Regions from separate parts of the Homo sapiens genome. Here region 1 is linked to region 2. Evidence: fine-mapped expression QTL. Tissue or cell type: tibial nerve. Region 2 holds a variant in brackets; the other region holds the start of a gene. All regions are shown on one strand. Distances are between the middles of the regions.

What was found. PIP is the estimated chance that this variant, and not a neighbour inherited with it, causes the effect.
Region 1: it holds the start of GRK3, and the variant in region 2 is fine-mapped to the expression of GRK3 in tibial nerve (GTEx, PIP above 0.99). The same link has a PIP of 0.9 or more in aorta, skeletal muscle and spinal cord.

The regions. Positions count from the first base shown.
Region 1 is chr22:25,560,711-25,568,889 of GRCh38, reverse strand. It overlaps GRK3 (G protein-coupled receptor kinase 3), which reads right to left and starts at 4,215. Exons shown (of 21, transcript NM_005160.4): 1 at 3,737-4,215. The coding sequence starts at 3,849. It overlaps GRK3-AS1 (GRK3 antisense RNA 1), which reads left to right and starts at 3,474. Exons shown (of 4, transcript NR_183564.1): 1 at 3,474-3,810; 2 at 4,531-4,800; 3 at 5,409-5,587; 4 at 7,392-8,002. RefSeq lists enhancers at 1,541-1,720, 3,003-3,518 and silencers at 3,630-3,879, 4,190-4,289.
Region 2 is chr22:25,466,637-25,474,815 of GRCh38, reverse strand. It overlaps LOC124905094 (a long non-coding RNA gene), which reads right to left and starts at 1,242. Exons shown (of 2, transcript XR_007068036.1): 1 at 1-1,242. RefSeq lists enhancers at 1,590-2,090, 2,091-2,591. The variant G/A (reference allele first, on the strand shown) is at 3,666.

The DNA.
Region 1 (8,179 bases), 94 kb before region 2:
TCACTAACAAATTATTGTAAAACACCAAACATCATGTGTTCTATGCATTATGCTATATTCTATATTCATTCTTTATTATTCTATATTCTATGCATATAGAGTAATAAAAGTCATCCAAACGCTATTTGTTTGTGGTTAAATAAAATCTTCAAGCAAATACACTTCAAAGCAAACATCCTTCTTGGCTCAAATCTTTGTATTTCACACTAGTCTATAAGCTCCATGAAGGAAGGGGCTGTGGCTGGGTTTGTCATAGTACCCCGTGCCTGGCTCATAGAAATGGCTCTACAACTATGTACTGAATTAATGTCATAAACGGTATCATAAATGTCCTTTAAGGACTGTCAGTGCTCCTAGAAAATTATAAAGAATCTTTAAAATGTTGTTTCAGACCTTCCTATCATATTGTATGAATACTTTGAAAGGACAAGCTTTGCAATAGGTGATCCAACATTTGAAATGTCCAGTAAATAGAAATAAGACTCCAGGGGAAAGATGAAGTTCACATTACTCAACCGCCTTCAACTATATGTGATTTCAAGTCATCTGAATTTCATTCTGTTTTTTTTAAAAAAAAAAGAGTAACAGAGTAATACAGCCTACAGTAAAAGTCGTCTGAATCACTCCAGGGCTTAAGATGATGACCCTTTGTGGGCCTTTGCTTGTGAATTAGACCTTACTTAAATAAAAGTATTTCTTTTCCAACATGATGTAAAACAACTGGCCTGCACATCTAAATGCTCCTGTTTTAACTGGGCCTGCAAGGGAGGCTGTGGGTCACAGTTTACTACTCCCAGTAGGCCCCATTATCAGCTACATTAGCTCAACAACATTTCAGTAAACTAAAGCAGCTATACCATTTGGACAAACAGTCAGCTTTTCCAGGATTTGCACTCATTGGTTGGTTAACTGAATAAAGTGTCAACATAACAAAATATTTGCCTCTTGCCATCTCAGGGAAGCAAAATCTCCCCTGGGCAGAATGTTCCATTTTCTGAGACTCTCCTGTAATAGGCAGGAAGCTGCAAACCCAGTGTTTCATTTAAATTAGCTAGATATTTCGTTCTGATGCTCTTCTGTTTAAAACTGTGGGAAAGGCAAAGTAACTAAAATAAGGAAGCACAAAGAATAGTGACTGCAAATAATTTGCTGGAAATAAAAAAATCACTAGTGATAGACCAAAGGCAAATTAAAATGTATGCTTCTCATTCAGATACCAAAAATACAAATCTGAACATCTCTTTCAAGAATACCAAAAACTGGTGATCACATGGCTTCCTCTATAATGAAGCTGAAATAGAAACTTATCAGAAAACATTTGACCCGTATCCCTTTTACCAATAGTGTGAAGTCATACCAGCTATTTAAGTCATTAGGCTGGGGCATTTTAACATGCAATTAACTTTTTTACAGGATCTAGAAATTCCCCAACCCCCAACCTCCAAATCAAATAGGTAGGCCACTAACTGCCATCCAGTGGTAGAGAGAATTTTGCAAGATGTTATACCTGATAATCTCAATGTAACAGAATCCTAACACAGCACAAGGAGTGACTGTTACTATGTAAATAGCTACATTACAAAACTAAAGCCAAAGCCACTAAGATAAGTAGAAAACAAATTAGAATCTCAGGAGGAGGTTCCAATGGCCCAATTCGAGAGTCTATTTTAAAAAGAGCAACAGAGTAACAATTACTGAAGGGCTGTTTCCTAAAATTACTCTCTGGTTGGTATTTCTCAATTTTCAAATGTCATGAGAAATAATGCTGGCTGTCACTTACTCTGCCTTAAAAGAAAGCATTACCAAAGAATACCACTGAAAAACAAAGGCATTCATACAAGGAAGTGAACACCCTAAGTGCATAAGTACGTTCTTAAGAGGGACACTAAAAAAGCAGAAGTCACATTAAGTTCCAAACACCAAGAAAAAAAAAACTGAACAGAAGTTCCTAACTTTATTAATATTATATACTAGCCCCCCCCAAAAAAAAAACTGCCCATGAGTTGAGATTTATCAATTTTGTATATAGAAATACTACATATTTAGGACTCCCTGCCTTTGGGTGGTGGAGGGACACTAGGAAAGGCAAGACAAAAGAGGAATTAAGCCTTTTTCTACCACATTAGAAATGTACAGTTTTTTTGGTGAAATTTAGGTTTGATGTAGGCGTTCTTGTTCTCTAAGTAAGTTTCCCATTTGCCGGAAATTTTAAGCAGCATTGATTTTTTTCAATTAGCTTCAGATATGCTACACTCTGGAATAGGGGTGTTAAACTCACGACATTGCAGAAAGGTTTGCACTTTTCCCTCATTTTCACTACTTGGCATTGTCTATCAAAGAGTAGCACATCCTGCAAAACCAACAAGAGGCATGGGCTAAGGAGGAAAAGCAAGCTCAAAATACCTAGCAAGCATGTCTTCATTTGCACAATTTAGCTTTTCACAACAAATAACAAGGGGACTGGTATTTTCTGTATCATAGGGCTCATGGATGACTTGTAAAAAAAATCAGATGATGATCACTTAGCATTAGGTAACATTTAAGCAATCTTGGGCGCCTAACGCTTGAAGGACTGATGATTTCAAATGGACAATAACTTTGGTTTAGATTCCAATATTTTACAGAATTGCATGGTTTCAAATTCACCATAAACAAGATGCCTCTTTTGAGCATCAATTCCAAGAGCTATTTAGCATCAAGGAATCACATTAGCTGTACAACTCATGATGGTGTTAATTAGGAAAGGAGCTAGAGAAAAAAAAATCCATCACTGAAGCCTTGATACGTTATTTAAAACTCACTATTAACCAGACAAACTATTTTTTCTGGGGAAGTGCTAATGATATGAACTAGAAAAAATTTTACTAGTACCTTAATAATAAATCATTTGAGAGAAAATTGCAACTTGGTATGCACCTCACCGAGCCCCTCGCCAATTCAATCGGGCCCTCCTTTGATAATTTAACAACAAATTCCTGTCTGGAATCACCCATTCAAGTGTCTTTTTAAGTGACTCCTGTTTCAATTTTTTAATAAAGTGCCACCAGTAGATCTACAAGTTGAGGAAAGCAGCTCAGGTGACACACTTGGCACCAAAAAGAATACTGAGTGGGTCAAAATCCTGCCCGGGGACAAAATAGAAGAGAAGCCGAAGAAGGTGACTAGACTTAATAGACTTCAAGAAGAGCAAGTACTGAAAACAGCAGTTTAACTACCTCGGACAATAAGCAACAAGCCTGCAGTCCCCAGGTAAGCGGCCCAGAGGGAGGTGAGAGGATGGAGTTGGAAAGGGGGACCAATGAGCCCGGGAAGAAGGAGCGACCAGGATGGAGCGCAAAGCAGTGACAGGCAAGGAGCCAACGGGGACTACACCAATGCAACAGGAAGAACCACGGGGATGGGACAGGGCAGGACAGGACAGGGCTGGGGGGAGGGGGCGACAGGGATGGAGCTGGTCCAGCCAAGTCATAACCAGACCCTGGCTGGGGCGCTCGCTGCGCGCAGGGCGCCGCGCCGGGCACTTTGGAGCGCTCTCTCCCGGGGTGCCCCCCACCGGCCCTCCGATGCCCCATTTCAGAGACTGGAACGACGAGGCCGGCCCCGCATCGCCCGCTCCGCTGTGTCACCCGCCCCGGGGCAGCGGAGGCTCAGCGCCCGACCCTCCAGGAAGCAGGGGGTAGCTGGCGGCCGCAGGGGGCGGCGGCTTGGGGCCGGCGCCGGCCGGGGCAGCTGGTACCTGGGCTCCGGCAGGACGATCCTCTTGCTGGCGCGGGCGGCCGGGGTCGCCTTGCTCTTCTCCATGGCCATCAGGTAACTGACATCGGCCAGCACAGCCTCCAGGTCCGCCATGTTGGCGAGCTTTGGCGGCGGCGGCGGCGGTTACTCCGGACCTGGACGGGACGCGCGCCCGCCGCCGCCGCCCGCCGCGCCCCGACCTGGGGGGGCCGCCCCGGGGCAGCCCCCCCCTCCGCGCGCCCCCGCCCCGCGCGCGCGCCGCGCGCCCCACTAGCGCTCTGCGCGCGCCGCAGGCTGTAGCCGGCCGGGGTCGCAGCACGCCTCCCCGCTCCGCCCCCTCGCGCGCCGCCCGGCGCCCCGCGCACGCGCGCCGCCCCCTGCTCCTTCAGCGAGGGTCTGCGGGGAGCGCGCGTCCAACGGTCAGCGCCCCTCAGTGCACAGTCCCAGCGGCCTCGCTGGGCCGGCGCCTCCCGACCAAGTCTCTACGGTCGCCCTCCCCTCGGGGTGGCCACGAGGGACTCCTCCTCCTCTTCCTCCTCCCCTCCCTCCCCCTCGGTCTCCGCCTCCTCCTTCTCCTCCTCCTTCACTGCCCCGACCTCCCGCCCCAGGTTCCACGCGCTCTGATGCCCGCCCCGCTCACCCAGAGAAGCCCTGGGCCAGACGTCCACAACCCAAGGGGTTATGGGGAGGCCTCTGCTCCCTGGACACAGTAGTTCTCAAACTGGACAGTGTCAATCAGCATCCTCCGGGAGGTCTGGGGTGGCCCCGGAAATACATGTGTCCCACCTATCCCAGCAGGTAATGATGAAACTCCTGCTCTGGTCCGGGCTACCGGTGAACAGCGCCCAGCGGGCCGGGCCCCCAACCTCGCTCCTGAGCCTGAACATCCCCCCAACCCCACCGTGAGAATTCAGCGAAGAGTAAAAGCTGGAAAAAGTTGCGTGTCTTAGGCTAAGCAGAACAAAGTGGGGTGACGGCTCCCCGGCTAGGAACAGAGATGCCCTTAGGGAGCCCTCTGATGGAAGAGCTCTCCGCTTAAGAAGGTCACCACTCCCTTACACTCAGGTGAGAGGTTTTAGTTTGGGTGTTGAAATGGTGTTGAGAAATAGAAGGAGAGAGAGTATTCCTGTCGTTAGGGTTTTACGGTCAATACAAGAGACAATTAGGGAGCATCTGCTGCGAGCACACTCGCACCACGAGGGTGATTTAGGGAAGTGGAAAAGCGAGATACAGCCCAAACACCGAAGCTGGGGGGAATTTCCAGCTTCCTGATCTTCGGTCTCGGTGTCTTTCATCATCACTCCACCCCGATGCCTGGGGTTTTCAGTTGCTTATTTTTCTACAGTGTGCACACAAGTCCGCATTCAGGATCCATGTGACACTCAGGCTGGAGTGGTGGTAAGGGACACGCAGGCAGTCTTAGGAAGACCTAAGCTGGAAATTAATGTTTTAAAATCCCTTTCATTCACCTGAATTGGTCACGTATTTCCATGAGCCTAGACGTTGCTAGAATTTGAGTGAACGTTCTGTCCATAACTTACAGGGTTAACGGGACCCACCAGATACAGTTAAGGTCAAATTTCAGATATTTCATGTAATGTCATTGCAGAAGCAGCCTGATTCTGTCATCAAATAGCCTGTTTCCCTCTTTTGTTTTCTCTCCCACGCCACAGCCCCCCTCAATCTGATTCCCTGCTATGCCTGCCATCACCACTGGCCAGTTTTACCACATGCTTCTCAAGACCCAAGGCACAATAGGCATAAAGTTGTCCTGAAAAGGACAAGAGGAGTGTCAGAAGTAGGAATGGCAGTTGAAGGAGCTTCGTCTGCCAGCAGAAAGCTGAAATGACAGGCAAGCACAAAATATATTAAGGAGACAAAGCTATGCATGAGCGAAATATCAAACTTTCATCTTCTACCCACTTTTTTTTTTTTTTTTTGCTTAAAAACAGGAAGACAGAATGTCTTGTCAAGGGTCACCCCAGGAGGAGGAGTAAATTCCCCAAAAAGCGGAACATATTTTTATGATTTAATTAATACAATTTCTCTCAATGTGTCTGTTTATCATTTGAGCATCCACATGATCAGACCTGACATCTGCCTACATTTTCTTGGTCGTCTTTGACTTCAGTTAAGAACCTTTTGCTCTTTGTTTTCCCCCAGCAGCACAGTATATTAAGTTTGGAACAAGACACACCTGAAATCAAATCCCTGCTCTGTGCTGGGTGATCTTAGAGGCAGTCTTTTACCTCTTTCTACTTTATTGTTCTCATAGGAAAAGTGGAAATGAGGCCTTTTACCCCAGGGTTGTTGAGAAGACAGAGGAGAAAAAGCACATAAAAATGCACCTTGTCGGGCGTGGGGCTCACACCTGTAATCCCAGCACTTTGGGAGGCTGAGGCAGGTGTATCGCTTGAGGCCAGGAGTTCAAGACCAGCCTGGCCAACAGGAAAAATACATTAAAAATAATGTCTCTATTAAAAATACAAAAATTAGCCAGGTATGGTGGTGCACGCCTGTAATCCCAGCTACTCAGGAGGCTGAGGCAGAAGAATCGCTTGAACCCAGGAAGCGAAAGCTGCAGTGAGTCGAGATCGCAGCACTGGGCAGGCACAGTGGCTCACACCTGTAATCCCAGTACTTTGGGAGGCTGAGGTGGGTGGATCACAAGGTCAGGAGATGGAGACCATCCTGGCTAACACGATGAAACTGTATCTCTACTAAAAATACAAAAACAAAATAAGCTGGGCGTGGTGGCGGGCGCCTGTAGTCCCAGCTACCTGGGAGGCTGAGGCAGGAGAATGGCAGGAACCCGGGAGGCAGAGCTTGCCGTCAGCCAAGATTGCACTGCTGCACTCCAGCCTGGGCAAGAGAGCAAGACCCTGTCTCAAAAAAAAAAAAAAAAAAAAAAAAAGCATTTTGCCTGGCACCCAGTAGATCCTCAATAAAGGTCATGGCACTTCCTCTATTTATTTTGCTTCATTTTACCCTGGCATGCTAGAGAAGATACTGAAACTAGTTGTTCACAGTCATTACACTTGAAGCAGGAAGACCCCTTACCAAAAATAACATCTCCCTAGGGCATTTCTAGGAACCAAAATGGCAAAAACATTTGCATCTATAAACATGAGCAATTACTCTTTTGGCAGAAAGACCAAGGAGTCCAAAATTTGGTCCTCTAACTGAGGCCCCTACACCATTTGAGTCAGCTGACTCAATTACCCAGGGGTATTTTTTTCTGGTGTTCATAGTGTATGAATTTCTGTTCCCTGGCTGTCTCTTTGGTTGTCTCACTTTCTCCACCCCCTCTTCTTTCCCTTTTTCTTGACTCTCTTGATACTGAACAGCTTTTTGTGTTCACTGCAAACAAAAGGGGTTAATGACAGTGATGATGAAGTTGTCATAACTGACCTGCTGGATCCTGTTACTAAACACCATCCCCAGCCTGTAATCATCACAAAGAACAGAAAAAACAAATAGCAACCCATTTGTACTTAGCTAATAATGCTCCCTTGCAAATAATTATGTCTCCCACCCCCAGAGGATTTAAATGACTTGGGGCTCACGCTGCTTGTGATAATAGACAAAACTCCAGCGTTCCCACAAGATTAATAATGTTCCCTTTTCTTCTTTTCTATGCCTTTCCATCGTTACAGGAGATGTTGCTGAGATGGGTGCATTAAAGTTTAGGCTTTCCAGAGTTTATATTGCTAACAACTTGAAAGGAAAAAAGCTAACTAGAGAACTGACTGGTCTTATTTGTTTTAGATTCTGGGCTTTACTAAGACTTCCTACTCTCAGAATCTCTGGACTATAAACGCTGGGTGGGGTGGGAGCTGGGAATGTTATTCTGGAAAATTAATCACAAATGAAAAGAAAATCAACTCTAAGACTCCAGTTAGAAGATTTTTGAAAATGGCAGAACATGACTGGCCTTCATTCAAGTCAGAATATTTAAAGCAATCCTTGCTAAGAAGAACTTGATTTTGTATAAGCAGTCCCTTAAATACAGTTGCTTCTCAAGAAAACCACACACAATTGATGTTTGAATGGCTTTATTTACAAACATCTCACTCCGTAAGCCTCTGCAGGTATTTCTAGCCTCCCAGGGGCCACTGTCCCGTTTCACCTGTAATTTGGATCACAATTCTGTTTGTTGTCACACACATCATATGAACTGCTTTTCATGCTGCTTTTATCCACAAAGCTTTACAAGCTTTAATGGCAGCTCTATGTATGACAACTTTATAAAGATCTGCCAAAAGGTATGATGCCAAGCTTTGCTTTTATTAAACTATTAGCTATTAGCACTGAAACGATGTTCAGTAGAGAAGTACTCTCCTTTCAATATGTGAGTGGAAACACATTTCTCTATGGGGACTGCTGGTCAGGGACTCACTCTAAAGAAAAGCCACAGTGTTGTGGTTCAGAGCATGGGCTCAAA
Region 2 (8,179 bases):
GGTAACCATCCTTCTACTGTCTCCATAAATTCAATTGTTTTAATTTGTAGCTCCCACAAATAAGTAAGCACATCCCCATGTTCAAGTTTTAGCTGCATAATAATTATGTTAAACACCTCATAGTACTAAGCGCTTCACAGACACTAATAGGTTAATCTTCACAACAACCTCTAAAGGAAGTACTGCTATTATCTCCATTTTTCTGGATGAAAAAACAGCGTCCTTAAGCAACTTGCTCAGTTGCTCAGCCCGTAAATTACAGATTTGGAATCTGAACCCAGTCAGCCCAGTTGCAGAGTTCTTGCTCTCGGCACGGTCACAAGGCCCCTCAAGGAGAGGTGGCCACCAAAAGAAAGGAAAGGGCTCCGGATGCACATGGTCTAATCACGGCAGCAAGGTGTACAGCAGCAGCCACTGGAAGCAACGCAAGTGTCCATCAAAACGGGACTGGGAGGCGGGTGGATCACGAGGTCAGGAGTTCAAGGACAGCCTGGCCAAGATGGTGAAACCTGTCTCTACTAAAAATACAAAAATTAGCTGGGTGTGGTGGTGGGCACCTGTAATCCCAGCTACTCAGGAGGCTGAGGCAAGAGAATCACTTGAACCCAGGGGGCGGAGGTTGCAGTGAGCTGAGATCACACCACTATAGCCTGGGCAACACAATGAGACTCCGTATCAAAACAACAACAACAACAACAAAGAGAGACTGGATTAATAACTTGCATTATACATATGCAGTGAAACTGTGCACACCAGCTAAGATGAATGATCTAAATCTACTATATGTGACAATATACAGTTGACCCTTCAAATATGGGTTTGAACTGTGTGGGTCCACTTATTCCTGGATTTTCTTCCATCTCTGCCACTCCTGAGACAGTAACACCAAAGCCTCCTCTTTTCTTCCTCCTCTGCTTACTCAATATAAAGATGACCAGAAGGAAGACCTTGATGATGATCCACTTCCACTTAATGAATAGTAAATATATATTCTCCTCCTTCTGATTTTCTTAATAATTTTTTCTTTTCTCTAGCTTACTTTATTGCAAGAATACAATATAGAATACCTACAACATACAAAATATGTGTTGTTCCACTGTTTACGGCGTTGGCAAGTCTTCTGTTCAATGGAAGTTAAGTTTTGGGCGAGTCAAAAGTTACAGGTGGATTTTTGACTGCATGAAGGAGTCAGTGCCCCTCCCTCCCTCATTGTTCAAGAGTCAACTGTAAATAAGTCTTGGAAACATAATGTTTTTGTTTTTGTTTTTGAGACAGAGTCTCACTCTGTTGCGCGGGCTGGAGTGCAGTGGCATGATCTCGGCTCACTGCAACCTCCACCTCCTGGGTTCAAGGGATTCTCCTGCCTCAGCCTCCTGAGTAGCTGGGATTACAGGCGCCCACCACCACGCCCAGCTAATTTTTGTATTTTTAGTAGAGACAGGGTTTCACCAGGTTGGCCAGGCTGGTCTCGAACTCCTGACCTCAAGTGATCCGCCCACCTCAGCCTCCCATAGTGCTGGAATTACAGGCGTGAGCCACTTGGCCTGGCCTTGGAAACATAATGTTAAAGGGAAAAATGCAATTTGCTAAATGAATCACAGAGTTTAACATTTACGGAAAGTGTGGAAACAATACTATATATTGTTTGTGGTTAGGCACATGTAGTTAAAGTAAAAAAAAGATACAAAAAGATACAAAAAAAGTAGGAGGAGAAAAGGGAATGGTGTCAGGGAAGTACCCAGCAGGCTTCCACTGTAATGTAACATTTTGTTTCTAATCAAAAGAATGTCTGAAACAAGAAATGGACAAATGTGCTTTGAAAAGTACAAGCTGGGCCCTATGGCTCACACCTATGATCCTAGCACTCTGGGAGGCTGAGGCAGGCAGACTGCTTGATGCCAGGAGTTCGAGACCAGCCATTACTAACATGGTGAAACCCCTTCTCTACTAAAAATACAAAAAATTTACAGGCACACACCTGTAAAGCCAGCTACTCAGGAGGCTGAGGCACGAGAATTGCTTGAATCCAGGAGGAAGAGGCTGCAGTGAGCTGAAATGGCACCACTGCACTCCGGCCTGGGTGACAGAGCATGCCTCTGTGTCAAAAGAAAGGAAAGGTGCAAAAGATGGGACCACATGGCACACCAAGACTGCTGTGATCACAGGTCCCCCTTACAAGGAATGGGTGCACCAGAGAAATCCTGCCCCGTCCCCGGCATGCCCCCACCTGGATAGCGCAGGTGGTTGGCCTCTGTCACTCAACCAAAGGGAACTGCTTCCAGCCTTTTCCCTCTTTCCCCAACTCCTCACACTAGACAGAAGGAATGTTCCCCAGGGCCAATTGTGCCAGGTGACTCTCTTCCTTAGAATTCTCCCATGGCTCCCCAGTGCCCTCAGAAGCAAGCCCACACTCCTTTCCAGGGTCAACATTTACCTCCATAGCCTGGGCCCTGCTGCCTTGCCAGCCTCACCTGCCACCATTCTTGTTCCCACACCCTGTAGAAGCCACAGTTGCATGCAGAGCCACCTCCATTCCCTCTCGTCCAGTAGTTTTTCTCACCTTGATAATTTTGCATGTGTGACCCCTTGCTCTGGAAAAGGCCCTTACCCCCTGCCAGCCTTGTCGGTCTGATGCCCGGAGTCCTCACCACCATGCACAGTGCATCCTAAGAGAAGCCTGACAGGCCTTGCCAGGAGATTGGCATCAGCCACCTCTGGATGAAGGAAGGGCGGGCCATTTCCCATGGCCCCATCCTACTTTCCCGCAGTTCCCAGACTTATTGTGGTGGTTGTTGCTAACAACTCACATGTACAATCAGTGGTAAAATTCAGCTTCTTTCATTCAAAACCAAATGAATGCCACCAAAATAGCTTCATAAGACAAAAGGACAAAATGACACTTTTCTTCCCACTTAGTTCACAAATGTCCCCTCTGGCTAACCAAAAGGGTACCTGTTCCATCTGCTCTTTCTGTCCTGCCTCCTCCTCCTCCTGAGTTCCCAAAGCCAAAAGATTGCAGGTAGTAAATGCACCCCAAATTCCCCCCGCTTTCTCCTCCCTGAACTAACAAAAGGAAGCAAGGAGGTTAGGATTCACCTGTATCTGTGTGTGCATTTGTGTATGTGAGTGTATGGGTGCTCACATATGGGTACACAGAAAAAAAAATCTAAAAAAAAAAATTCCTTTCCTATTTGTGACCACATATCCTTTTTTTTTTTTTTTTTTTTGACACAGGATCTTGCTCTGTCACCCAGGCTGGAGTGCAGAGGTGTGATCTCGGCTCACAGTAACCTCTGCCTCCCAGGTTCAAGAGATTCTTGTGCCTCAGCCTCCCATGTAGCTGGGACTACAGGTGCACACCACCATGCCCAGCTAATTTTTGTATTTTTTGTAGAGCCAGGGTTTTACCACATTGGCCTGGCTGGTCTCGAAGTCTTGGCCTCAAGAGTTCTACGTTTCTAACAGAGTTCCATTTCTAATAGAGTTGCTACATATAATACATGTCAAATATTTATCTAATACATATGCACATACTACATGCATATGCATTTGTACAGGTGTGTTTTAGGCACCCAGGTCTCACTGCTTGCCAGATAACAAAGTTCTTCCCTGTGGACCTCTACTTCCCCATCTATAAAATGGGAGACTTCATCCCCTTCATCCCT[G/A]ACCGTTTATCTGAGTCTGTCTCATGTAGAAGGTGGAGGCAAACACCTACTTTGCATGATTTGTCCTAAATTTTCACCTCCCTGTCTGCAATCCTGCTGGAAATCCCATTAGTGACCCCATCCACTATCCTCTTTGGAAATGTCCTTATCCCTAGTATGAATATCTGTAATTCCCTACAGTTTTCAACCTGGGGTGATTTTGCTCCCAGGAGACACTTGGCAATGTTTGTATACATTTTTGGTCATCAAGTGTTGGGGGTTGCTACTGGTCAACTGGCTGGTAGAGGCCGGGGGGTGCAGTTAATATCCTGCAGTGCACAGGGCAGCCCCCACCACACATCAAGAGGAGTAAAGTTGATTGCGAAGCCGAGGAGGGCAGATCGCTTGAGCTCAGGAATTCGAGATGAGCCTGGGCAACATGGAGAAACACCATCTCTACAAAAAATAAAAAAGTTAGCGAGGTGTGGCGGTGCATCTGTGGTCTCAGAGACTCAGGAGGCTGAGGCAGGAGGATCACCTGAGCCCAGGGAGGTTGAGGCTGCAGTGAACCCTGATGGTGCCACTGTACCCCAGCCTGGGTGATGTGAGACCCTGTCGCAAAAAAAAAAAAAAAAAAAAAGCGGTGAAGTTGAGAATGAGTAGCCCTGCCTAGAATGAAAGCATTTATTGGATACTTTCCTTTACACTCTCTAGACTGAGATGCTTGGAGTGTTCTGGTAGTACCCAAGGTAGAAGGAAGCATTACAAGTTTAAAAATGGAGAAATTATGTTTTTATGCAGCAGCTGGGCACCAGGCTATGGATTCATCACTTTGTAGGCCACATCTCCTGCCAAGCAAGCCACATGCACCCTGTTTCCAGATGAGAATGTTGAGACAAGGTTGGTTAAAACACGCAGTTCTGAAGAGTTACTGTAACAGATTCTGGAGTCTGTGCTCTGGAAGGGAGGAATGGGGGTGGTCACTAACTCGAGGAGAGGGAAGCATTTGTGCCTGAACAATGAGAGTTGTTTTCAGATGAAGAAATCGGCACATGTTGAGAGAACAAGACAAGCTTTTTATCCGAGTGCTTGATTTTCATTACAATGACAGGTGTCTCCATGGCTTCGTGCTTGGAAGTGACTAATTCTAAGGAGTCTTTCCTGTTGGTCAAGTCCTAGTCTCTGGGTTTGACTACTCATTCATTCATTTGATCTTTCATTCATTCAATAAATACCTATCAAGCCTCAACTATATACTGTGCTCTGTGGATATATTGAATGCAAAATCAGGCGTGGCCCTTGCCCTCATAGAGCCTAGGAAAAGAGATGGAAATGAAATCAAAGAACTAAATAAATACATATAGAGCAACATGTGTGATTAGGGCTTCCAAAGAGAGGTGAGCAAAGCAGAAAATAGCACATCAGAAGATTGGCCTGGCCATAGAAGCCAGGGAGGACGCTGGGCCGAGATTCGAAGCCTGCATAAGGGGGATAATTACGTCAGGTGTGGTGGCTCACGCCTGTAATCCCAGCAGTTTGGGAGGCCGAGGCAGGCAGATCACTTGATCTGTCAGGAGTTAGAGACCAGCCTGGCCAACATGGTGAAACCCTGCCTCTACTAAAACAAAATTAGCCGGGCATGGTGGTGTGCACCTGTAATCCCAGCTACTTGGGAGGTTGAGACAAGAGAATCACTTGAACCTGGGAGGTGGAGGTTGCAGTGAGCCAAGATCATGCCACTTCACTCCAGCCTGGATGACAGAGCAAGATTCCGTCTCTAATAATAATAATAATAATAATAATAATAATAATAGGAATAATTAGGCAAACTGGGGGAAAATATGTTTCAGGAAAAGAAAACAGCATATGCCAGAGTCCTGTGGCTGGAGGACTCATCAAGGGTACACAGGACAGAAAAAAAAGTTTATATACATGGTAGGAAGCTAAAGAGACAAAGCAAGGGCTGGTCCACACAGGTCTTGTGAGTTAGTAATTAGGATTTGTATCCAGAGGGTGAAGGGGAGCCATGGCAGGTTTAAGCAGGAGGGTCTCATGATCAGATTTGCATTTTGAGATCCCTCTGACTTCTGCATGGGATTTGTAGGGGGACAGAGGGAGTGCAGACAGACCTGTGAGAAGTGCTGCTGGGGTTGTGTGAACAAGAGAGGATGCGGGCCTGGATCAGGGGATTGGTGAGAAGTGTGTGAATTTAACAGAAATTCATTAGCTCAGATGGGTGATGGAAGTTCAGGAGAACTGCATGAAGAACTCATACACCCTTCTTTTGGGATCTCCTTCAGGGCTGCCCTGCCAAGGCTCCCAGATGCCCGCGGCCATCACCAATCAACTCCCCTGCTCGAGATGGGGAGCAAAGATTTGGTTTTAGGAAGCCACTATTGTGGTGGACTGTGGCTCCCACCTGGGCCTGGCTTCCAGCCTGGATTCCTCGCAGAGCCTGTCCAGGGCAGCCACAGGACGCAGGGACTCTCAGCCCTGCACACTCGGGGCTTCAAAGGCCACAGCAAAGGGGAGGCCCAGAAAGAGCTATTTCAGGCTTCCTATTTTTAAAGCCGGGGTCAGGGTGCCCTGCTCACCACCAACATTTCCAGTACTGGAAGCTTCAAAAACTTCAACTCCCTCCAGCCCAGCACCAGAGACAGGCTCTGTGCACAGGGCTGTGCAGTGACCATGGGCAGCCAGGAGAGAGGCCTCCAGCATGGGTGGAGGAGGTTTTGGAGTGCCGTGGTGCAAGAAAAGCCAGAGAGGTTGACCACCATGGGTGGGATAGAGCCCTGGGTTCAAACCCAGCTTTTTCATTTTCCACCAGCATGGCCTTGAGCAAATCATCTCCCCCTTTCTGAGCCTCAGGGGCTCCCCTAGAAAATGGGAATAAGCCACAGGTGGTCATAGGTGGAAGCGTGAGGACATCAGCCAGCAATCACTTAATAAATGCCTCCTGTGAGCCTGTCATGGTACGCGGTGGTGGTAATGCAATTGTGAACAAGATGTGCTTCACTGAGCTTTCATTCTAACAGGGAAACCAACATTAAAGAAAAATTGAAGGCTGGGGGCCGTGGCTCATACCTATAATCCCAGTGCTTTGGGAGACCGAGACGGGAAGATTGCTTGAGCTGAGCCCAGGAGTTTGAGACTAGTCTGGGCAACACAGCGAGACCCCACCTCTACAAAAAATAAAAATAAAAAATTATCCGGGCATGATGGTGCACACCTGTAGTCCCAGCTACATGGGAGGCTGAGCCAGGAGGATCACCTGAGCTCAGGAGATCAGGGCTCAGTGAGCTGTGATGGCACCACTGCTCTCCAACCTGGGCAAGAGTGAGACCCTATCTCTAAAAAGAAGAATATAGTTTGCCTCCTGAATATATAATAATGATGAATATAAAGTATGCCTGGAAGAAAAGGAGGATTTGGCCAATATGTGGACCAATCTTTTTGACAGAAACTGCTATCTCAGGAAATGGCAGCGTGAGCCACCTGGTTGATGTTTCCTAATTCCTGGATTAATGGAGAGAAAGAAAATTTAAGCCCAATCCACTCAAAGTTGCCTTCTTTAGTGAAAAAAAGAATAACAACTTTATGAAGAAACAGCATTAACTATAAACTGGTCTTGGAAAAGGAACATATCACCCACCTATTTTCATGAAAGATGCAGAAAGGCGAACAGTTTAAAGAAATACAAAACCCAAAGGCAATGGTAGCCAAGTGCAATGGCTCACACCCATAATCCCAGCACTTTGGGAGGCTGAGACAGGAGGATCACTTGAGCCCAGGAGTTCAAGATCAGCCTGGACAACATAGCAAGACCCTATCTTGGCAAAGCAATGGTTCTCAAACTTGGGTTTACAGTTGGGACACCCCTCCCTCCCAAATTGTGATTCAGTAGGTCTAGGGTAGGACTGAGAACTTGCATTTCTTTTTATTTATTTATTGAGACCCGTTCTCACTCTTTTGCCCAGGCTGGAGTGCAATGGCGTGATCATAGCTCACTGCAGCCTTGAACTCCTAGGCTCAAGTGATCCTCCCACCTCAGCCTCCTGAGTAGCTAGGACTACAGTTGTGCACCACCATGCCCAGCTAATTTTTTATTTTTTATAGAGATGGGGTCTTACCATGTTGTCCTGGCTGGTCTCGAATTCCCGGCCTCAAGCGATCCTCCCACCTCAGTTTCCCAAAGTGTTGGGATTATAGGCCTGAACCAAGGCTCCTGATCGGAACTTGCATTTCTAACAAGACCCCAGGTGATGCCAGTGATGCTGGTTTGTGGTTCACACACTGAGAACCGCGGCTTCAGGGAAGCTGGGAATACCTTTGGAGATTCACTAATATGAGCCCTGCTTCACTGAGTCTCTTTTCTCACAAGGGGAGACAGGAAGCCCTCGACAGCCTCTTAGGGGCAGAAGGGTCTGGTTTTCAGCTTCGTGCTGGGAGGAGCTTGGGGCAGCCTCTGAGCTCCTTCCCATCCACATCCCCAGCCAGCTGCTTCATCACTTGGGAGGTGATGGTCAACCTGCCCA